Linked DNA regions of Homo sapiens: region 2 is linked to region 1. Evidence: fine-mapped expression QTL. A gene starts in region 1. The other region holds a variant in brackets. All regions are shown on one strand. Distances are between the middles of the regions.

Evidence for each region.
Region 2: its variant is fine-mapped to the expression of ANKZF1 in lung (TOPMed, PIP 0.98). The same link has a PIP of 0.9 or more in whole blood.

The regions. Positions count from the first base shown.
Region 1 is chr2:219,223,319-219,234,518 of GRCh38, reverse strand. ANKZF1 (ankyrin repeat and zinc finger peptidyl tRNA hydrolase 1) reads right to left here and starts at 4,713. Exons shown (of 14, transcript NM_018089.3): 1 at 4,619-4,713; 2 at 4,114-4,291; 3 at 2,479-2,591; 4 at 2,157-2,259; 5 at 1,836-2,029; 6 at 1,328-1,440; 7 at 1,086-1,233; 8 at 576-804; 9 at 231-386. The coding sequence starts at 4,261. ATG9A (autophagy related 9A) reads left to right here and starts at 4,883. Exons shown (of 16, transcript NM_001077198.3): 1 at 4,883-4,984; 2 at 6,034-6,085; 3 at 6,466-6,597; 4 at 6,706-6,749; 5 at 7,586-7,650; 6 at 8,947-9,108; 7 at 9,307-9,448; 8 at 9,665-10,413; 9 at 10,497-10,650; 10 at 10,755-10,934. The coding sequence starts at 6,495. RefSeq lists enhancers at 4,519-4,628, 4,299-4,846, 4,847-5,394, 5,395-5,943 and silencers at 4,779-4,908, 5,119-5,168.
Region 2 is chr2:219,270,951-219,282,152 of GRCh38, reverse strand. DNAJB2 (DnaJ heat shock protein family (Hsp40) member B2) reads right to left here and starts at 2,787. Exons shown (of 9, transcript NM_006736.6): 1 at 2,635-2,787; 2 at 2,255-2,355; 3 at 1,466-1,575; 4 at 382-435; 5 at 92-214. The coding sequence starts at 2,319. TUBA4B (tubulin alpha 4b) reads right to left here. Exons shown (of 4, transcript NM_001355221.1): 4 at 9,956-10,987. The coding sequence ends at 10,454. RefSeq lists silencers at 2,463-2,942, 4,184-4,386 and an enhancer at 3,963-4,667. The variant G/A (reference allele first, on the strand shown) is at 3,992.

The DNA of each region.
Region 1 (11,200 bases):
CATCCACGCATCTGCTCCACACAAAGATTTTCTTAGCTCTGGGGAAACATCCATAACAAAAGAGATAATAGATTTGGAAAGGTCACTAAACATGTCTCAGTAATTGCTAAGATAGACACTGTGGGTGTGTGTTTAAATAAGGAAATGGGTCAGTTATGAGAGTAGGGAATTTGCCAGTGCATTTTTAGGACAGAAACTCAGATCTGACAGTTGCCAGATAGTAATCAAACCCTGTTTGGGAGATTCCTCATTCTGCCCCAGCGCTTCCTTTTCATCCCTGCAGATCTTTCTTATTTCTTCCTCAGTAGGCTTCTTTCTCTCCTCTCTTACTGTTTTCCAGTGTGTCTGAGGTGAGTGCAGTCTGACTGCTTCCCGAGGGTCTTCTTCTGCCATAAAAGAAAAGATCTTTCTCAACCTTAGCTGAGGAGAAGCTAGCGCAGGTTTCTCTCAATGCAGATGTAGCTGGGCTGCAGTCCAAGGCTTAGAAAATCCTCTGGATATACCAATGAGAATGGAGGCTTAGGTTGGAGAGAACAGGAAGGTCTAGGGAATTGGGATCTGGAGCAAAGGCTCACCATAGACATGCAAAGTGGTCAGCTTATGGAGCACACGCTGTAGCTCTTGGAAGGTGGGTCTGCGGGTGGCGAGGGGGATATCCCAAAGTCGGGGATCCCCCCTTTGCAGGGGTGCTCCCTTGCCTCCAAAGAACAAAGACCGGCCAGAGCGGGGAGCACGCAACAGTATTGTACCAGCCTCCTCCAGCGCCTTAGCCCAGCTTGGCCCTGCCAGCAGGTCACGAACATCCTAGAGAAGAGAGTAACTCAGTCCTGCATACCTTCACTTGCTATTTATAAATCTCCAACTAAAAAAAATGGCCCACAGAAGTGCAAGGGGTGGAAAGTAGAGGATAACACGGAGAAAGAATAGAGGACTAAGGCTCCTGGGGAATCCCTCATCTACCTTTGTCTACCTATAATGAAAATTGGAAGGATATGAGTCAAAAACCTCCCTACTTAACAGTGAGTTGAACAGAGATGCAAAAAAAGTATGGATCAGTACCACCAGATCTAAAAGGCTTAACTCACCTTATATAGTGTGGCTTCATTGTAGCGCCTCAGGTTGGCTCCAGCAGAGTGTGATGGCCCACCTCGGGCATCCCGAAGCCCCTGGGCTGTGCCCCGCTTGGCCCGAACCGTATAGCGGTGAAAAGTTTTGTGTGTCACCACTTCTCTTCTGTAGACAGCACAGACTCAGTACTGGAGACCAGCTGGTGCTCCCTGGCTAACAGGATCCACTCCATCCTTACCCCCATGCAGCACCCTCTCACCCTTGAAATATAGCACCAGCAAAGTGCCCAGCTGCAGCCATGAGCACCACGCAGTCTCTGGGACCTCTACTTTGCAGGTTCTGTAGCAGCAGTTCTGCCTCTTCTGGGGGATCCTTGATGACAGAGAAGCATCAGAAACATATCTGTTGCATTCACTGAGAGCAAGAAACTAAGGGCCAATTTTCACAAACATTATCTCATTTAATATTACCACCCTGAGGCTTGTTTCCATTTGACAAACAAGGAAATTTGAGGCTTGGCGAGGCAGTCAAGATGAAGTGGTAGAATCACAATTCAAACCTAAATTGGTTTGTTTCCAAACTTAATTCCATTACACTTAACCCTTCCACAATTCAGGCCAGTTTCAATTCAAGACTATGTTGTCAAGCGTGATACCCACAACCAACAGGAAGGAAGAGAAGCAGGGAGAAATGCACTAGGCTAAGGGAAATCTAGGCTGGGTGTACAAAAGGCTGGGGTTAGCCATGCAACCTGTACTGTCACTTGCCTGATGAGGGCCTAGGACACAGCGGTAGGCATAAAGAAACTGGCCCTGGGCATTCTGGAAAAGAACTCGATGAGGGTAAAAGCCTGGGGGTCGGCTCAACTTCTCAAATGTAGCCCTCTCCCGATCCAGTGTCTGCAAGTCCTCCTCACTGGCTGAGTCTGAGTCTTCTGATCCCGAGATGCTGGAAAGATCTCCTGAAGACAGACAATATGAGATACACAAGTTTGGTACCCCATTTTTGTTCTTTCCTCAAACTCTAAACTAGTGCTTTCTTATACCTCCATGTCCTACTCCTACATAGGTCCCCCTACCACTCATCACCTGTGGAGCTCTGCTTTTCAAAGTCCAGGGCAGACAGGAGAGGCTTGTCCTTGAGACGTTGCTTTAGGTTAAACCGATGCCAGTCAAGCTTATAATGTTCCCTCTAGTACAAAGACAAAGAGTGAGATAAAGGTGGAAATATGCCCCAGCCTGGCCTTGTACTGGCCAAGACCAGTTATAGTATTCTAGGAAGTACAACCAGGTAACACCAACTGCCTCAGTCAAAGCATGGACCTTTATTAAGACAAATCAAATGTCTACCTCTCCCCACCCACCATTACACTTTTGCTTCTAACATCTAGCTCTGCACCTGACCTATTACCTGTTCTTGGTGGTTCTGGAAGGTCTGGTCACAAGTTGAACAAAATAACTTCTCTGAAATATCCATAGGACCCTGGAGTAGCTTTCTTTCTGGGCTTTCTCTCTCCCCTGAGCCTAAATAAGGGAAGAGGAATTGGACATAGAAAGGGAGCCCAAATCCACAGTGACAAGAATTATATTCAGAGTGTGATATACAAAGCAGAGGAGGATACAAAAGAGATGGCATGATACTGCCTTCAAGGAATTTACACTCTAATAGTCATGAAATAAACAGTACAGCAATCACTTAATGCAATAAACATGCTTCTGAAAACATGTACGTAAAATGAATGTAAATAAAATAAAATTGGCCAGGTGCAGCGGCTCACGCTTGTAATCCCAGCACTTTGGGAGGCCAAGGCAGACGGATCATGAAGTCAGGAGATCAAGACCATCCTGGCTAACACGGTGAAACCCCGTCTCTACTAAAAATACAAAAAATTAACCGGGTGTGGTGGCGGATGCCTGTAGTCCCAGCTACTTGGGAGGCTGAGGCAGGAGAACGGCATGAACCGGGGAGGCGGAGCTTGCAGTGAGCCGAGATCACACCACTGCACTCCAGCCTGGGCAACAGAACGAGACTCTGTCTCAAAAAAGATGAAGAAAAATAAAATAAATAAAACGAATGTAAATAAAAACTGGCCCTGGGCATTCTGGAAAAGAATCCGATGAGGGTAAAAGCCTTGGGGTCGGTTAAACTTCTCCAACGTAGCCCTCTCCCGAGATCCAGCGTCTGCAAGTCCTCCCCACTGGCTGAGTTTGAGTCTTGTCTAATTTAAATTAGCCAAACAGATTGTTTAGGTGAATCCTAAAGAAAATAATTTCTGTTCAGTTTAAAATTATTTTTCACTGCACAAAAACTACTTCCCAAATGCTTTTTAAAGTTTACATTTCCAATTAGTGTACAGTTTGTCTAAGGAGAGGTGCAAGAAAAGATGTAGCCAAACTAAAGTTACACAAAACAGGACCGACACGGTGGCTCATGCCTGTAATCTCAGCACTTTGGGAGGCTGACCCAGGCGGATCACTTGAGGCCAGGAGTTTGAGACCAGCCTGGCCAACATGGTGAAACCCCGTCTCTACTAAAAATACAATAATTAGCCGGGCATGGTGGTGCGGGCCTGTAGTCCCAGCTACTCGGGAGGCTGAGGCAGGAGAATCACTTGAACCCGGGAGACGGAGATTGCAGTGGGTGGAGATCGTGCCACTGCACTTTAGCCTGGGCGACAGAGCGAGACTCTCAAAAAATAAAGCTATACGAAACAAATAATAAATTGTTTCATATTCAGCAAAAAGGAATAATTTGAGTGGGGCCTGGTTAAATGTGGAATACATCTGAGAATTTTATCTCTACAAAGTTTAAAGTGTTTTTGAAGGGAATGGTGTTAACGTGAGGAGATACATGCAATGGCAAAAAGACTTGTTTGAAAACAAGGGCTGTGCTGGACATTACCCAGAGATTAAGTGAATTTAATCAAGCAGAAAGATAAATCAATTGGCCTCCTAAGCTCGGGAATACCAATAAGAATGTGTTCCCTGAACGGGCAATACGCTGTAAGGAGCCCTGTCACGTTTCACACGAAACCTTCCAGGATACCTGAACAGGAAGTACGCGGAGCCCGGGCCAGAGCCTCCCCAGGCGCGTGGCTCACCAGGCTCAGGCCCTGAAAGACCGGAGCATCCGCGCTGAGGTCAAACAGGGAGATCGACGCAGGAGCCGGGGCTGCATCTGGAGCCGGCGACATGGCTGAGCAGAAATTATTTAGCAGCAGCTCCTGGAGTAGAAAGCGTGTAAGAAACAGGGCTCCTGCAAACGAGATCCTACTGCTGCGTCTCCTGCCTGCCTGACTTGGTTTCTCCTGCACCGCAAGACTTCTCGTCTCTCATCCTGCTACCAACTGTGAGATGAATACCTTGGCCCCCGTCCACTTTCTCAAACCCCCAGTCTCAGCCCACAAAAGAATGAAATAGGCATTCGGCTCCCAAATCGAGTCCAACAGAGTTAAAAATCACTGAGCTTGCCTAGCCGAACTTTCTTCGTTACCCATGCGACCAGCAACAACTGGCCCGCGTAAACTCGCCCACGCCCTTAGAAGACGCACCAAACGTCCCGGGAGCTGAGCGGCTCGCAAGTCCTCAGGTCGATTGCCGGATTTCTGCAACACAACAATCCCCGTCACTACGGAGCAGCGAAGAGGACAACCGGCGGCGTCCGCACCTGAGCCCCGCCCCACGTAGAGCACACTATTGGGCCGCTGACTGTCCAAGACCCGCCTCGAGACTTTAGTCCCGTCCCTGAAGCCGAGAATTGGCCGTTGTGTCTCCGCCCCCCGTGCTTATTGGCCAGCCTGGCTGCGGGTGACAGTGAGTGGCAGACACCCGGCCTAGCGCCGCGGGTCGCGCCGAGCCGAGCCGAGCCGAGCGGAGCCGGCGGAGCCTCTGGAATCACCCGGGTCGCTGTTCCTGAGGTAAGACGTGAGACCGGTTATTGGAATCCCAGGCCCCGTGTCTGGCCTTGCCCAGGGGTGCCTGCGGAGCCCTAAGTGAGCTCGCGGCGGGTAACGGAGGAAGGGGCGCCGCCGGCGGGGCGGGGGCGCGCAGCCGGAATGTTTTGATTGCTGGCGCGCGCAGACGGGGGCGCGCGCGGGCGCCGGGGCCGCGCGCGAGGTTGTCCGCTGTTGGGAGCTGCCAGCCCTTGGCCTGGGGCCGGGCGACCCTGGGGCGAGGTGGACTCCGGTCCACGGTCGCCGCGGCTGGGTGTGGGGAGGCAAGCCAACCCACCCGGGCTATCAGCTGTAAGGCTGACTCGATCCCTGCAACATCCGCAGGAACCCCTGAGCCCAGGCCCAGCCGGCCGGGGCTCCACGGGCCCTGGTCCACACTGACCCTGTGAGTGGTGACTTCCCTGAGGGGCAGGGCTCTCACTAGCCCAGGGAATCCCACCGGGGCCAGGCTGGGCCAAGATCCACGGCCCCCAGGGGCTGCACGGACAGGTGAGTACCACCTCGACCATGCCTGGCTTACAGGACCTAGGGAACCCACAAATTCACCTAGGATCGGGGGTCTACACTGACCCAGTCAAGGTTTCCCATCCAGAAGGTTTGCTCACCGGCTGGATCTTTGGTGCTAGGGAAGTAAGAGAAGGGGTTGACCAGAAAGGTCCTCTTCAGGAAAGACTCTTGAGGTTTTGTGGACCCTGAGAAGTATGTCATTTCTGAGGCTAAGGTAGGGCAATGGAGAAATAGTCCAGAGGCGCCCCTGGCCTCAGGTCTGTACCCACTCATTCTCCATGGGGTCCCTAAGTTACTTCTTGAGACCCTGGAGTTGGAAGAGTGGCCCGGTTTAGCACAGCCAGAGGAAGTGCTCGTAGTCCTGGGCTGGAAGGGTGCTTCTTCCCCACTGCAGCCTTCCTGCCCCATGCTTGGCCTCCTCTTGGTGGGGTGTGGATGGCTGGGAGGGTTGGGTTCCTTTTTATCCCCACTGCCCACTCTCTGGGGCCTGACATCTTCTCCTCCAGCAGCTGCAGAGCATCGAGGGCTGGAGAGGAGCACATACTGTCCATGGAGCTGGTAGGGCCATGTGCTTTTCTCAAACATTTGTTTGTGAAGTGCTTCCAAACTGTTAGTCTCTTGGGAGACCAGGGTTCCCAGGATGGGCGGGGGAGGGACTCTTCTGTCCGTTAAATAGAAGATGAAACAGCCCCCAACAAAGGGACAGATTCTGGCTTTGGGCCAGGAAAGCAGCAGTAGACACCCAGACTGGCCAGAGTTAAGGCTCCCCCAGCCCTGAGCTTACTGCCTTTCTTGTGTCACTACTCCTCTGCCTCTGAGCCAAGGAGGCTGGTAGTGGACAAAGCCCAAGGGTACTTTCTCCTTTTGGCAGTAGGCAGGGCAGCCCATGGGCAGCAGCTGGAACTGAATCAGGGTCTCTTCTTCCTCCTTATTGGCAGGTGGTCAAGGTGGACAGGGGGCGGTGGTGATGGCGCAGTTTGACACTGAATACCAGCGCCTAGAGGCCTCCTATAGTGATTCACCCCCAGGGGAGGAGGACCTGTTGGTGCACGTCGCCGAGGGGAGCAAGTGTGAGTTCTTGGATATGACAGCCATAGGGAGAGTTGATGGAAGAACATGGAGAGAGCAAGGGGCTTGTGTTCTCCCAGGGCTCTGACATCTCTGTTCCTATCCCACAGCACCTTGGCACCATATTGAAAACCTTGACCTCTTCTTCTCTCGAATATCCTTTGTGTTTCTGAGTTGGAGCTCTGGGACCTTTAATGTCTCTCTAAGCCGGGGCTCTGGTGGGAGGTGGGGGTAGGTTTGACTCTAATACCTGGAAACGGGAATGGAGCTCATCCTGAGGCTGAAAGAGGCTGGTGAAATCATCGTTAAGTAATGATAGCCCACATTTACCAAGATCTGTGTGCCTGTGTCCACTTTGTGGTGTTAATTTGTAGAAGCCTTTCTAAGGGTGAGCCTCCTTTTTTTTTTGTTTGAGATGGAGTCTGTCTCTGTTGCTGCTAGAGTCCAGGGGCGATCTCAACACACTGCAACCTCCACCTCCTGGGTTCAAGAGATTCTCCTGCCTCAGTCTCCCACGTAGCTGGGATTACAGGCACCTGCCACGATGCCCAGCTATTTTTTGTATTTTTCATAGAGACAGGGTTTCACCATGTGGCAAGGCTGGTCTCGAACTCCTGACCTCAAGTGATCCACCTGCCTTGCCCTCCCAAAGTGTTAGGATTACAGGCGTGAGCCACCACACCCAGCCGAGCCTCCTTTTTGATGGGATGTAAATAATCGTAATAAGTAACGTCTTTTGACTCATTCTGTGTCAGCTCTGTGTTAAATGCTTTACATGCATTATCTTAGACCTAATACTCCTATGAGACAAGTGTTATTTATTCCTAATGTACCACCATGGACAGACAAAAGTTTAGACAGGTTAAGTAACTTGGTAAAGTCACACAGCTAGAAAGTCACAGAGCCAGGACTTAAGCTTGAGTGTGTTGACACCAAAGTCTGTGCTCTTACCTGCTTTCTTTACTGACTACTTTTTCTTAACAATTACACGTTTATAATCTGCACCAGAAGAATGGCTTCACATGTATGCTCATCGGGGAGATCTTTGAGCTCATGTAAGTATAAGAAGGGACAGATGATGTGGTGAAAGAATACATCTTAGTCTTTCCTCTCCTTGCACTCACACTTGGCCCAACCTGCCAGTACAACTCAGTCCTAGGCTAAAACTCCGTAAACCTTTGTAGTTCAGGGACTGGGTGTGGCACCAAAACTTACAGCTTCACCTTTCTTTTTTTTTGAGATGGAGTGAGTCTCACTCTGTCGCCCAGGCAGGAGTGCAGTGGTCTTGGCTCGGTGCAACCTCTGCCTCCCAGGTTCAAGTGATTCTCCTGCCTCAGCCTCCTTAGTAGCTGGGACTACAGGCATGTGCCACCATGCCCGGCTAATTTTTTTTGTATTTTTAGTAGAGATGGGATTTCACCAAGTTGGCCAGGCTGGTCTCGAACTCCTGACCTCGGGTTATCTGCCCGCCTCAACCTCCCGAAGTGCCGGGATTATAGGCATGAGCCACCACGCCCGGCCAAGCTTTCTTACAAGAAAAGCTTTCCAAGCCTTATCTCTTCCATGAAAAGAACCCAAGCCTTGGTTGGGCACGGCAGCTCACACCTGTAATCCCAGCACTTTAGGAGGCTCTAAAAATACAAAAATTAGCTGGGTGTGGTGGCACACGCCTGTAATCCCAGCTACTTGGGAGGCTGAGGCACAAGAATCGCTTCAACCTGGGAGGTGGAGGTTGCAGTGAGCCGAGATTGTGCCGCTGCACTCCAGCCTGGCTGACAGAGTGAGACTCTCTCAAAAAAAAAAAGAATGCAGGCCTTGACCTTGATCATCTCAACGCTCCAATGGAACGTACATTGTTCAGTCAGGAGGTCTCAGAGATGCCAGCCACAGAGAAAAGCCTCTGTTCTGCCTTGCCTGTTCCATGGCCTGCTCCTAGGCAGAGAGCCTCCTGGGAGAGAGAAGCCATATAGCATTGCCGAAGGGGAAGGGGTTAGGAAGCCCTCCCTCAATCAGAAAACTCCCCCAAGGGCTTTTAACTACAACCTCAAAAGGAAATCAGAGACTGGAGATCAGAGACCCACAGGATGAAACCTTCGAGAGTCCAGTAGTGGTGGCTGAGGTTACCATGAGGTGAGGAAAGTAGGCTGCAGCTGTGGCAGCTGAGGCTAAGAGCAAAGAGTGGGCCTGAGACAGTCCTGTGGGGCTGAGGAGCAGAGAGGGCCCACTGGGAGTTCTCCAGGCCCTTCCAGTTCCCAGTCTTGTTCTGCCACCTCCAGACTCTCCTCTTCCCACTGGGTTTCACTGGAGCCTCTCTGGCTCTCAGACTGCACCCCTTCTTCCCAACTCCCCAGGCAGTTCCTCTTTGTGGTTGCCTTCACTACCTTCCTGGTCAGCTGCGTGGACTATGACATCCTATTTGCCAACAAGATGGTGAACCACAGTCTTCACCCTACTGAACCCGTCAAGGTCACTCTGCCAGACGCCTTTTTGCCTGCTCAAGTCTGTAGTGCCAGGTAAGGGCTGCAAGTCAAGAGGACACCATAGCCTTGAGTTCTGCTAGCAGGTGGGTAATAGAGTGGAGTCTGAGGCAGCAACTCATACTCCAGAACTGACTCAGGCTTGGTCTAGCAAAAATACTTCAGGATAGCAGCGTCTCTGCCAAGACTCCTTCCTCGAGGGCCACCTCTCCTCCCCTTCTTTTTCCCCACCAGGATTCAGGAAAATGGCTCCCTTATCACCATCCTGGTCATTGCTGGTGTCTTCTGGATCCACCGGCTTATCAAGTTCATCTATAACATTTGCTGCTACTGGGAGATCCACTCCTTCTACCTGCACGCTCTGCGCATCCCTATGGTAAGACTGGGAAGTTGGGCAGTTAGCCCATAGTCTAAGACGTATTGGGAGGTGTGGGTGTATTCCTGGGCATCAGTTATCCTTATCTGTCATTGACAAATCAGGAACTGTCTCTTAAGCTCACAACCCCTGAATCTCACTTCTAATATAGGGCAAAGGGGTCGAGGCAACAACCCCACCTTCCGTACCTTGTCTCTTCCCCACCCCACCCCGCAGTCTGCCCTTCCGTATTGCACGTGGCAAGAAGTGCAGGCCCGGATCGTGCAGACGCAGAAGGAGCACCAGATCTGCATCCACAAACGTGAGCTGACAGAACTGGACATCTACCACCGCATCCTCCGTTTCCAGAACTACATGGTGGCACTGGTTAACAAATCCCTCCTGCCTCTGCGCTTCCGCCTGCCTGGCCTCGGGGAAGCTGTCTTCTTCACCCGTGGTCTCAAGTACAACTTTGAGCTGATCCTCTTCTGGGGACCTGGCTCTCTGTTTCTCAATGAATGGAGCCTCAAGGCCGAGTACAAACGTGGGGGGCAACGGCTAGAGCTGGCCCAGCGCCTCAGCAACCGCATCCTGTGGATTGGCATCGCTAACTTCCTGCTGTGCCCCCTCATCCTCATATGGCAAATCCTCTATGCCTTCTTCAGCTATGCTGAGGTGCTGAAGCGGGAGCCGGGGGCCCTGGGAGCACGCTGCTGGTCACTCTATGGCCGCTGCTACCTCCGCCACTTCAACGAGCTGGAGCACGAGCTGCAGTCCCGCCTCAACCGTGGCTACAAGCCCGCCTCCAAGTACATGAATTGCTTCTTGTCACCTCTTTTGACACTGCTGGCCAAGAATGGAGCCTTCTTCGCTGGCTCCATCCTGGCTGTGCTTATTGCCCTCACCATTTATGACGAAGATGTGTTGGCTGTGGAACATGTGCTGACCACCGTCACACTCCTGGGGGTCACCGTGACCGTGTGCAGGTGGGCCAGGGCCACAGGCGGGAGCAAGCCGGCTAGCATTCCTGGGAAAGGCATACATCTCACCATGATCCTGATCCCACTAGGTCCTTTATCCCGGACCAGCACATGGTGTTCTGCCCTGAGCAGCTGCTCCGCGTGATCCTCGCTCACATCCACTACATGCCTGACCACTGGCAGGGTAATGCCCACCGCTCGCAGACCCGGGACGAGTTTGCCCAGCTCTTCCAGTACAAGGCAGTGAGTGGAGTTGGAGTTAGGGCCTGCTAGAGACTGGCTGGTAGCTCGGTGGTGAGGGCTGGGCTCCCTCCTGCTCGCTTGTGACCTTGGTCCCGCCCTTTTAGGTGTTCATTTTGGAAGAGTTGCTGAGCCCCATTGTCACACCCCTCATCCTCATCTTCTGCCTGCGCCCACGGGCCCTGGAGATTATAGACTTCTTCCGAAACTTCACCGTGGAGGTCGTTGGTGTGGGAGATACCTGCTCCTTTGCTCAGATGGATGTTCGCCAGCATGGTCATCCCCAGGTACTGGGAGAGGAGGGAGCCAGGTGGCCTGGGATGATGCTGGAACATACAGTGTCTTTGGGAAAACCGCAAAAAGACACCTCTCCTGAGTCACACAAAGGCAGTCCTATACCAGGGGCACACTGCTTGGGAGCCTGGGCTGGATTTCAGCCCTAATTCGCACCCTTGGCCAAGCTCCCTTAAGAAAGGCACAACACGGCCAGGCGCGGTGGCTCACGTCTGTAATCCCAGCACTTTGGGAGGCCAAGGCGGGTGGATCACGAGGT
Region 2 (11,202 bases), 48 kb before region 1:
TCAGCCTTCCACCTCAGGGCCTCCCAGCTGATGGAAGGACAGGCCTGGAGGGGGAAGTTGAGCCATTCAGAGGCTTCCAGAGTCCACTCACCAAAGAGCTCTGCAAAAGGGTCTCCACTCCCAAAGAATTCCCGGAAGACCTCCTCGGGGCTGCGGAAGGTGAAGGTGAAGCCAGGCCCACCACTGCCAGCTTCTGCCCGAGATGGGCCAGTTCCTGGAAAGGCAGGATGAGGAGAGAGCTTAGGGCATGCATCCTGCCCTGAGCGGGGGACCTCACCTAAGGCACAGCCAGGAGCCTGAGAGAGCCTCCATTGCAAGAATCTGCCCTGCCCCTCTCCTCCCTGCCCCACCTCCATTCCTGGGCCTCACCACTCCACCTACCTGTCCCTGTCAGCCCTTCCCGGCCATAGCGGTCGTAAATCTCCCGCTTGTGCTCTGCAAAAAGAGACCAGATCATTTCACCCTCCCTCTGGGATGGGCTCCCCTCCCAGGCTAGGACGTTCAAAGGATTGTCCAGAGACTGACACTCTGACACTTGGCGGGGGAAAGCAGGCACAGCAGGGGACCCAGGGGACACGGGCTATAGGTTTAGGCAGCAACTCAGCCTTTCACACAGCTGGCCTCTTCTCATCTGGAAAATGGCTGTCATCACAACACCTACCGCACAGGGTTGTTGCACAGATCAAATGAGACCATCCACGTAAACTGCCTACCAGTGCCTGACACATAGAAAGTGTTCAATAAATGTTAGCTAATGATTACTACATTATTATTCACCAGGGCTTAGCCTAAATGTCACCTTCTCGGAGAGGCCTTCTACAACCACCAGAACTAAAGCAAGTGCACATTATTCCCTAGCACTCCACCTGCCCTGTTTCTTCCCTCGGAATACTCTTCACAAGCTGTAACTGTGTCTGTGTGTGTGCCTGGTAGGTGTTGGTCTTCCCTGCCCCTCTGGGCAAAGACAGTGCCTGCTTGTCCTCCAGTTTCCCCAGCACCCAGCGAGTGCCGGACACTGTCACCATTCACTGAATTACTTTTCGAATGAATCAATAAAAAGGCAGACCTGGATTCATATTCCAGCTCTGCGTGGCCTTGAGCAAGTTACTTCACCTCTCTCAGCCTCAGTTTCCTTGCCTGTAAAATAGGGGTGATAGAACCTGCCTCATAGGACGGCTGTGAGAACTCATGGAGATGACACCCACCAATGCCTGGCACGCAGGAGGCTCAGCTCACATGAGTTACCTGCCCTGCTTCCTTCCCCTTTCAGGTCTCATGCCAGCCACTCCTACCAGACTCTGGGGAGCAGACACTGAGCTGTCCCTGTGGGAGGGGGGAGCTTAAATGTCAGGCTGGAAAAAGGCACAGAGGAAACTAGGTGGCAGAGACATTGCTTTAAGAAAATGTGAGCTGGGGCATGAAGTAGGGGGTGATGTGCTGGGTCCTGCCTGACCCCGGCCCTTACTGTCAGACAGCACTTCATATGCCTCGGCCACCTCCTTAAATTTCTTCTCAGCAAACTCTTTATTATCTGGGTTTTTGTCTGGGTGCCACTGGAGAGCCTTGCGCCGATACCTGCAGAAAGTGGGTGCAGAGGAGAGAGTCGGGGGACAAATGCAGGCACTTCCCACCCAGGAACCGAACGACCTGTTTTCCCATTAGCCTATCACTGTCCTTTCACCCCCGGGTCCCAGTCCACCCCAGCTGCTAGGGCTGCCGCTGCTGTGATATTTTCATCAAGTTCCACCCTCTCTCCTCCGCCACCAGTGCTGGGACCACATGTACAAGCGGATACAATGCCAGGGTCCCTAGCCCCTCCCTAGGGCTCACTGGACTGGGGCTGCAAAGGTTGGGGCACATGTGGCCTCGAAGAGTACAGGGACACCGGCCCCTCCTCCTCATAGAGCCTCTTTGCACTGCATCTTTGCACTGCAGCCTGAGAATGCCCAAATCTAGGGGGAAGGGGGAGGGGAGGGGAAAGGAGGAGGAGGAGGAGGAGGAGGGGAAGATCAACTGGAGAACAACCCATAACACAGTGCAGCTCCCAGAGGAACTAACTACTTCACTCTCTGGACGTTCTCCTTGTACTCTACCAGGGGTCTCTTTCCTCCCTGCAGGTGTCACTCGGAAGAAGCACCCCAGTGCTTTCTAACGACCTGGTTCCCTCAGACACCTACAGGTGTCACTCTGAAGTGCCCCATGGTGGTGGCGGGTGGAGGGTGAGAGGTCTTCTGTTGCATACGGAGGCACTTACGCCTTCTTGATGTCATCAGCGGACGCACTTCGCGGCACGTCTAGGATCTCGTAGTAGGATGCCATGGCAACTGGTCAGTCGTCAGGCGGGCCTCCTTGGGGCTGCAGAAGAGAAGGAGTCAGGCGGAAAGAACCAAGAGCCCCACCCTGTGGCTGCAGCAGTCCCCCTCCCCGGGTGGCGGAAGGCGCTCCCAGTTGGAAGCGGAGCACACCGGGCTCTGCTTGCGGCCGGTGACTAGGCTCCCTCCGGCAGCCTTATCTGCCCCCGCAGGCCGGGGCCAAGAGCTATCTCGACGCCCAGGCCCAGGAGCCCTATCGGGGCCCCCCAACTCCAGCAGTCCGATCCAGGGCCCCCAGCCTGACCCGGGCCCCCGGCCGCACCTCCTCCGCCAGGAGTCCCGGCCTCCTGCGGCGCCCCGCCCCTGCCCCCCGCCGGGAACCGTCTGGCACCCGCAGCCCGGCTCGCGGCTGCTGCGTAGGACGCGCCCGGCCCAGCTGTGCGCGCAGGCATGCGTCAGCGGTGCGGAAACTACTAGAGACGGGGAGAAGGCCGGCTCCGCCTGTCCCCTGGGGGGGTGGGGGCCTGCAGGGGCTGCCGGGAGAAGAGGGCGGAGCCGGCTATTTTGGGCACACACCAGGACGACGTCAGCCCCAGCTGGGACCTGGGAGACTGCGGCCCCGCCTCCATCCAAGCGAGAAGCGCTCGCACGGAGGCTGGGGCAGCCCACAAACAAGCCGCTCGGCCCCCAGGTTCCTCTGTCACTTTCTTATAAACATGAGCGATGATCCATGCTTACTCACCCACCTCGAGGACTCAGACTCTTCCCTCCCTCCCCCCACCACGGTTCTAACTCCTCCCCCTTCTTCAGCTCCCAGCTCCAGCCCCAGGTCCCCCAGCAGGCTGCCCTGGCTTTCCTGAGTAGGTCAGAACTGCCTTTTACAGCATCTCGTGGCATTTCCTTCATCAGGCTTGTTAGAGCCACAAATTAGCATTTATTGGTTTGATTATTTTTTATTACCATTCACCTCCCCCACTAGAATGTCGATTTCACAGGACAGGAATTGTGTGTTTTTTCTCACTGGTCTATTAGAGCAGTCGTAGGGGTTCAAAACTACCCGTGGGATGAATAAATAATGAACACCTGCAAACCTCTTGTTGACAGTTTTGACACATTTGGGGGAGGTGAGGTAAAGGGGGCCGTACAACGGAATTCCCCAGGTTCAAGTCTTCCCAAACTGATCCTGAGTAGGCCTATTCCACTTCAAAATGCTCCCTGGGTTCAGGCCTCATTGGAGAGTTAGGAAACCTTCCAGAACTGGCTCCTGCTTGATCCCATCCAGGCCAATCCAAAGGCGTTAGCTGAGCATTTTTCTGCATTCAAGATGCTGCCAGGCCGTATAAAGAAGAATGTGGCCCAAGCCCTGCCTTTGCAGAGCTTGAACTTGATAAGATACCAGCCCATCAGTGTAGCCCGCTGGGAAACCCGAGGCTTTGGAAACAGAGTACAACCTGGCATTACTGTGAGACTTGGGAAAATCTCTGAGCACTCTTTTTTTCTCACTAAATATAGGTAGTGCCTAGGGTTGTTTGAAAGTCAAATGAGACATGGTACGAATTAGGTGTTACTGCGGTCCTGCTGGCATCGTGATTGGCTCAAGCAATAATGGTTATGTGAGTCCAGAAAAGTGCTTTAGGCTGGGGGACCCAGGAATACTTCGCCAACGAGAAGGGTTTGAG[G/A]CGGACGTGAGAGAAGAAGGTGGTGTGAGTGTCCTGGTTTCCTGGCTGCCCACCATCAGAACCTCCTGCCTACATTTGGGGAATTCCCATCGCAAGGGCCCTAATGGAAAGCAGGCCACCATTTGCCACAAAGCCCCAATGCTTGCTCTCCCTGACTCGGCTCTGGGGTTGCAGGCAGAAGACATGAGCTCCGCCAATCGGATGCTCCAACTGGGACTTTGAATCTGGAGCAAGTCACGGAATAGCAAGGCTGGTTTAGGAATTCATTTCTGCGGCGGCGGTGGAGGCGATGGGGCCAACAGCGGCCTCTAGTGTCTGGAGGAGGAAGTGTCAGCGCTACTGCCGCAGGTGAGGGACGAGAGTAGGAGGATCACTGCGGAGGGTGGAGGGGACAGGAGTCTCCTACACAGGCTGTCCTGTGCCCAACCTTGACTGTGGTACTGGCTGCCCAGCTTCCCTAGGTGCCTGTCTGATTGCTGACCCTTGTTTGCTGGCCCTTGCATTGATTCTGTGTGCTATCCGATATCTCTATAATTGTTGGGGGCAGGGGACTTGAAACAATTTGCCAGTTAGCTTCTGCTGTTTATAAGAGTCCTGACTGACACAAAGACTAAGGGTTAGACTTGGTATAAGAGGAAGGAGTGGTTGGGTTAAGTCACTCCAAATTTTCCAGATCTCTGCCTTTTTCTTCTTACTCTGCTGTGCCAACAGACATTTGTCTAGCACCTACCGTGTATGTCTTGTTATATTAAGAAAAAGAATATAAAAAAGTTTAAATTCCAATCTCTGTGCTCAAGGGGATAGGACATAGACAAATGACAACTGAGGGAAATTATATGGAGCACATCTAGCAGACAAAGGTTTAATTTCCTTTGTCCACAAAGAAATGCCAACTAATGAAAGACAATGACATTTTTAAATGGACAAAGGGACAGGCAGCTCACAGAAGAGGAAATACTGGCTTTTAAACAAATGAAAAGATGCTCAATCTCATTCACAAAAAAACTGTAAACTAAAGCTACGACAGGCCAGGCATGGTGGCTCATGCCTGTAATCCCAGCACTTTGGGAGGCCAAGGCGGGTAGATCACCTGAGGTCAGGAGTTTCAGATCAGCCTGGCCAATATGGTGAAACCCTGTCTCTACCAAAAATACAAAAAGTAGCCAGGCGTGGTGGCACATGCCTGTAATCCCAGCTACTCGGCAGGCTGAGACGGGAAAATCACTTGAACCCGGGAGGCGGAGGTTGCAGTGAGCCAAGATCGTGCCATTGCACTCCAGCCTGGGCAACAAGAGTGAAACTCCATCTCAAATAATAATAATTTTTAAAAGAATAATAATAATAAAGCTACAACAAAATACTTTGGGGTTTTGTTTTTTGAGATGGAGTCTTGCTCTGTCATCCAGGCTCCAGTGCAGTGGCACTATCTTGGCTCACTGCAACCTCCCAGGTTCAAGCAATTCCCCTGCCTCAGCCTCCCAAGTAGCTGGGATTACAGGCATGTGCCACCACCCCTGGCTAATTTTTGTATTTTTTGTAGAGATGGGGTTTCACCATGTTGGCCAGACTGGTCTCAAACTCCTGGCCTCAGATGATCCTCCTGCCTCAGCCTCCCAAAGTGCTGGGACTATAGGCCAGAGCCACTGCACCCGGGCACATGGCCCTAACAAAATACTTTGTTTCACTTATTGGATGATTGACAAAGACAAAAAAAAGAAAAAAGTTGAATACATTGTATGGGCAAGGCTGAGGGCACAGGCATTCTTATAGATTGGTAGTGGGAGGGTGGGTAATTTGATGTGACTTTTTTTTTTTTTTTTTTTTTGAGGCAGAGTTTCACTCTTATTGCCCAGGCTGGAGTGCAATGGTGCAATCTTGGCTCACGGCAACCTCTGCCTCCCGGGTTCAAGCAGTTCTCCTGCCTCAGCCTCCCAAGTAGCTGGGATTGCAGGCGTGAGCCGCCGTGCCCGGCCTGGTGTGACTTTTAAAGAGAGCAAGATTTAAAATGCATAATCTTTGACCCAGAAATCTCAATTCTAAGAATGTATGGTCATATATATGTGCAAAAAAAATACATACAAGGGTTGCAGCATTCTTTTTAATAGCAAAAGATTGGAAACAATCTAAATACCCGTTAATAGCAGACTGGTAAAACAAGTGTTGGTATGCTATACGATGGAATATTATATTGTGACCAAATAGAATGAGGCATAGCTAACAGTATTCATATGGACCATCTTCCAGATTTATTATTAACTGAAAAAACAAGGTGTAGAACAAAGTGTATACTAAATGTGCATACAAGCATGGTAGTACAGATGGAGCATCCCTACTCCAAAAACCCAAAATGTGAAATGTTCAAAAATTCAAAACTTTTTGAGTACCTGACATGATGCCACAAGTGGAAAATTCCATACCTGACCTTATATACACAAACTGTTTCATGCACAAAATTATTTAAAACATAGGCTGGGCTCAATGGCTCAGGCCTATAATCCCAGCACTTTGGGAGGCCGAGGCGGGAGGATCACCTGAAGTCTGGAGGATCACCTGAGGTCAGGAGTTTGAGACCAGCCTGGCCAACATGGTGAAACCCTGTCTCTACTAAAAATACAAAAATTAGCTGGCATGGTGGTAGGCACGTGTAATCCCAGCTACCTGGGAGGCTGAGGCAGGAGAATCACTTGAACTTGGAAGGTGGAGGTGCAGTAAGCCAAGATCACGCTATTGCACTCCAGCCTGGGCAACAATAGTGAAACTCCATCTCAAAAAACAAAACAAAACAAAACAAAACAAAAAAATTATTTAAAACATTATACAACATTCCCTTCATGCAATGTGTATCAGGTGTATATGAAACATAAGTAAATTTCGTATTTAGACTTGGGTTTCAGCCCCAAGATATTTCATTATGTATATGCGAATATTTCAAAATCTGAAAAAATCTGAAATCCTAAACACTTCTGTTCCCAAGCATTTCCGATAAGGGATATTCAACCTATATATATGTAGACATCTCTGGAAGGAAACACTAACAAAAACATTAACAGTGGTGGCTGCCAAGAGGGGAACAAAATGAAAGAGACTTATTTTTCTTGTTCCTAAATCTCTCTGATACTTTTTGAATTCTGAAGCATATGCACCTAATAACTGTTCAAATTCATACTAATTGTTAAAAATTGAGTTGGGGAAATAAGACATTGACAAGAAGCCAAGTGATATCATACAAGGCAGCCCACACCAAGTGCCAAATGAAAAATAGAGACCGAGGTAGGTGCTGAAAGAATTCAGAAGAGGGAGAGCTCCCTGGGGCTGGGTAGGTTCTGGATGGCTGTGACCTAAGCTGGAAGGAATGGCAACATTGAGACAAGCAGGGGGAGGTGGCGTTCCAGAAGGAGAGAATGGTGACAACACAGCTTTGAAGCCAGGCGTGTTCCTGACACATCAGAGCCCAGGGAATAAATTTGTTGGGTAGAATCTGAGCTTGGAAACCTGTCTCTTTTGTCTGCCTGAAGGAGGCAATTGTACTTTGGCTCAGAATCATCAGGGATGAAAGCATTTCCCCTGCACTGAGGGAGTCCCCAGGAGCCAGGCTGGGTGGTGCTCCTAGCTGCCTCAGGAGGTCTGGGTTGCCACCTCTCCACAGCCATACCCAGTCCAACCCAGGCCTGCCAGGGCCTGCCAGCAGAGTATTACTAGCAGGAAGACCTCAGGGAGATGGCTATATAGCTGCCCAGGGTGGGCTGGCTGGTTCAGCAGACAGGAAGGGAGACGAGCTGCCTCTCTCGATCCCTAGCCGTCTTGGCAGGTGAAGAGCTCACCTCCCTCCCCACCCCCAATCCTGGCCTCTCCCAGGCCCTCACCACCTCCTAGGAGATGTTGGGGGATGTTTTCCAAAGGGCACTGATAGCCCCAAAATCTGGCCCCAAAGAAGCCTCTACCCCCATTCAGACCCAGAAGCTGGGACTCTCCCCTCTACATCGATGCCCTCCTTCCCAGAGCCTGGGCAGGGCATTGTGAAGCGTCACCCACTCCCTGCCCCTGAGGCACCTGAGTCACTGTCTGGGCACTCGGGACCTGGCAGGCTGAGAAGAGGTGGTGTCTGGAGGGCTGCCTGGAACCACTGTGAGCAGGAAGTGAGGGCACCTAAGAAAAAGGTGGGGGAGCAACATATGATTTGGTGCAGGCTAACCTGGGTTTGAATCCCAACTCCTCCATTTACCACCTTGGGCGAGTCTTTGAGTCTCAGTCTCCACATCTATAAAATAGGTGTTCATTGAACAAGTTCATCCAACAAGTGTTAATCATCTAATATGCCGGGCAACACTGGGGTGTTGAGAGTAGAACAATGAAAAACAGTCCAAGGCCTGTCTGAGAGCTTCTGTTCCAGTGGGTGTAATAACTGTATTAACCTCAGAATTAAACAAGATCTTATGGATACAGGACCTAGCACATAGTAGATGCTCACTAAATGATGGCTATTTCTTGGGGTGTGAAGGGCTCCCAGAGTAACACCTTTTCCCTTCCCAAGTTTGAAACCAGTTGATGGAAAGACGCATAAGTCAAATATATGGAGATTTAAAAGTCAGCCCTTTTAGCAAGGCATGGTGGCTCATGCTTGTAATCTCAACACTTTGGGAGGCCAAGGTGGGAGAATTACTTGAGCCCAGGAGTTCGAGACCAGCCAGGGCAACATGGTGAGATCCTGTCCTTACAAAAATATTATTGTATTGTATTTTTTTATTTATTTATGTTTATTTTTTTGAGATGGAGTCTGGCTCTGTCACCTAGGCTGGAGTACAGTGGCACTATCTCAGCTCACTGCAAATTCTGCCTCCTGGTCTCAAGCGATTCTCCTGCCTCACTCAGTCTCAGGATTTAAAATTTGCCATTTGTTTGGAAGTGGGGGTGGGAAGCTGTGTGTGCATGATGCCACAGGACTGTTAAAAGGTCAACTGTCTTTATCAAAAAGTGGTGAGTGTCAGGGCTGGGCATGGTAACTCACCCCTGTAATCCCAGCACTTTGGGAGGCTGAGGCTGGTGGATCACCCAAGGTCAGGAGTTGGAGACCAGCCTGACCAACATGGTGAAACCCTGTCTCGACTAAAAACATAAAATTAGCCAGGCCTGGTGGTGCATGCCTGTAATCTCAGCTACTTGGGAGGCTGAGGCAGGAGAATAGCTTGAACCCAGGAGGCGGGGGTTGCAGTGAGCCGAGATCGTGCCATTGCACTCCAGCCTGGACAACAAGAGCAAAACTCCATCAAAAAAAAAAAAAAAAAAGTGGTGAGTGTTGACAGAGATTACTGGGAGGTAAGCCTCCTACCCTTACAAGCCATTCTCCCTGTGTGGCAGCCACTGCACCACTCTTCTGCCTCAACCAACTCCAGTGTCAGGGCTCTCTATTACCCCAACCTCCTGCCTGGAGAAGACAAGCCTCCAGATCGCAGGATGGGCTAGTGGGCACTAGATTACTTTAAGGATCACTTCGGATCCTCCTGGCCTCACCGGGCTCTTGTTGCAGCTCCATGTGGGGTTCCACTGACTTCACATATGTGCAACTTAATAGCACCTCCTCCTCGCCCAGGGTTTCCTGATGACTCTACAGCCCAAGTGTGTGCAATCCACCAGTGCAGGGGAATTAATGCTTGATGGGGCAAAAGTTTAACTAGTGGAAGAATAGAGCCAGTGCATAAACCCCACCCCCAGCCCTCACCTGCCCACTCACCCAAGGATGGTTCTGAGATGCCATTTATTCAGCTGCATTTTCTCTAGGGTGAATTTTTCCTCCTTCTGTGCCTTACTTCCCTTGGCCCCCATTCTATTTGCTGTAATTGCACTCTATAATGAAATCTAAAATCAGATCTGCTTTCTGGGGAATAGAGGCTAAGACACCAGCGTTCCTATCTCTCATGGAGAAGAAGCCCTCCCCCCATGGTTTTCCCCCAGAGAAAAAGACATTCGTGAGACAATAAGGCCACAGCACTTTATGTAGGACAGACACACAGTATTCCCCTAGTATTCATCCCCCCTATCTTTTCTTCCCCCCACTCCACACTATCCATGCCCACCTCCTTGTAATCCTTCTCCAGGGCAGTCATATCCTCATGGGCCTTGGAGAACTCACCCTCCTCCATGCCCTCACCCACATATCAGTGCCCAAACGCCCTCTTGGCATACATCAGGTCAAACTTGTGGTCCAGGCGGGCCCAGGCCATAGTGATGGCTGTCATGTTGCTCAGCATGCACATGGCACGTTGCACTTTACCAGGTCACTCCCAGGCACCACAGTGGGAGGCTGGTGATTGATATCAACCTTAAAGCCTGTGGGGCACCAGTCCACAAACTGAATGCTGCACTTGGTCTTGATGGCAGCAATGGCAGCGTTGACATCCTTGGGCACCACATCTCCATGGTATAGCAGGCAGCAGGCCATGTACTTGCCGTGCCGGGGATCACACTTCACCATCTGGTTGGCAGGCTCAAAGCAGGCATTGGTAATCTCTGCCACCAACAGCTGCTCGTGGTATACCTTTTCTGCAGAGATGACTGGTGCATAGGTGGCCAGGGGGAAGTGGATGTGAGGTAGGACACCAGGTTGGTCTGGAACTCTGTCAGGTCCACATTGAGGGCCCCGTCAAAGCGCAGAGAAGCTGTGATGGAGGAGACAATTTGGCTAATGAGGCGATTGAGGTTGGTGTAGGTTGGGCGCTCGATGTCTAGGTTGCAGTGGCAGATGTCATAGATTGCTTTGTTGTCCACCATGAAGGCACAGTCTGAGTGCTCCAGGGTGGTGTGGGTGGTCAGGATAGAGTTGTAGGGCTGGACCATGGCTGTAGACACCTGGGGGGCTGGGTAGATGGAGAATCCCAGCTTGGATTTCTTGCCATAGTTAACAGAAAGCCACTCCATCAGGAATGAGGTGACGTCAGAGCCAGTGCCCCGACCAAGGCTGTGGAACACCAGGAAGCCCTGAAGTCCTGTGCACTGGTCAGCCTAGACAGGGAAGGGGAGGGGAAATGTGGGGCATGGAGCACAGCTGATGGACAGGAAAGAACCAACTTGTGCTGTTTTAAATTCCCAAAAGTTTCATGAACTCCTTGGAAGACTTTTCCAAGAGCACAAAAGAGATCCTCATAGAGTGGGTCCAGGGCCCACCCTTTCTCCTCCCTGTCCCTCTTCCTCTGAAATCTCCTGAGGCCCTTAACACA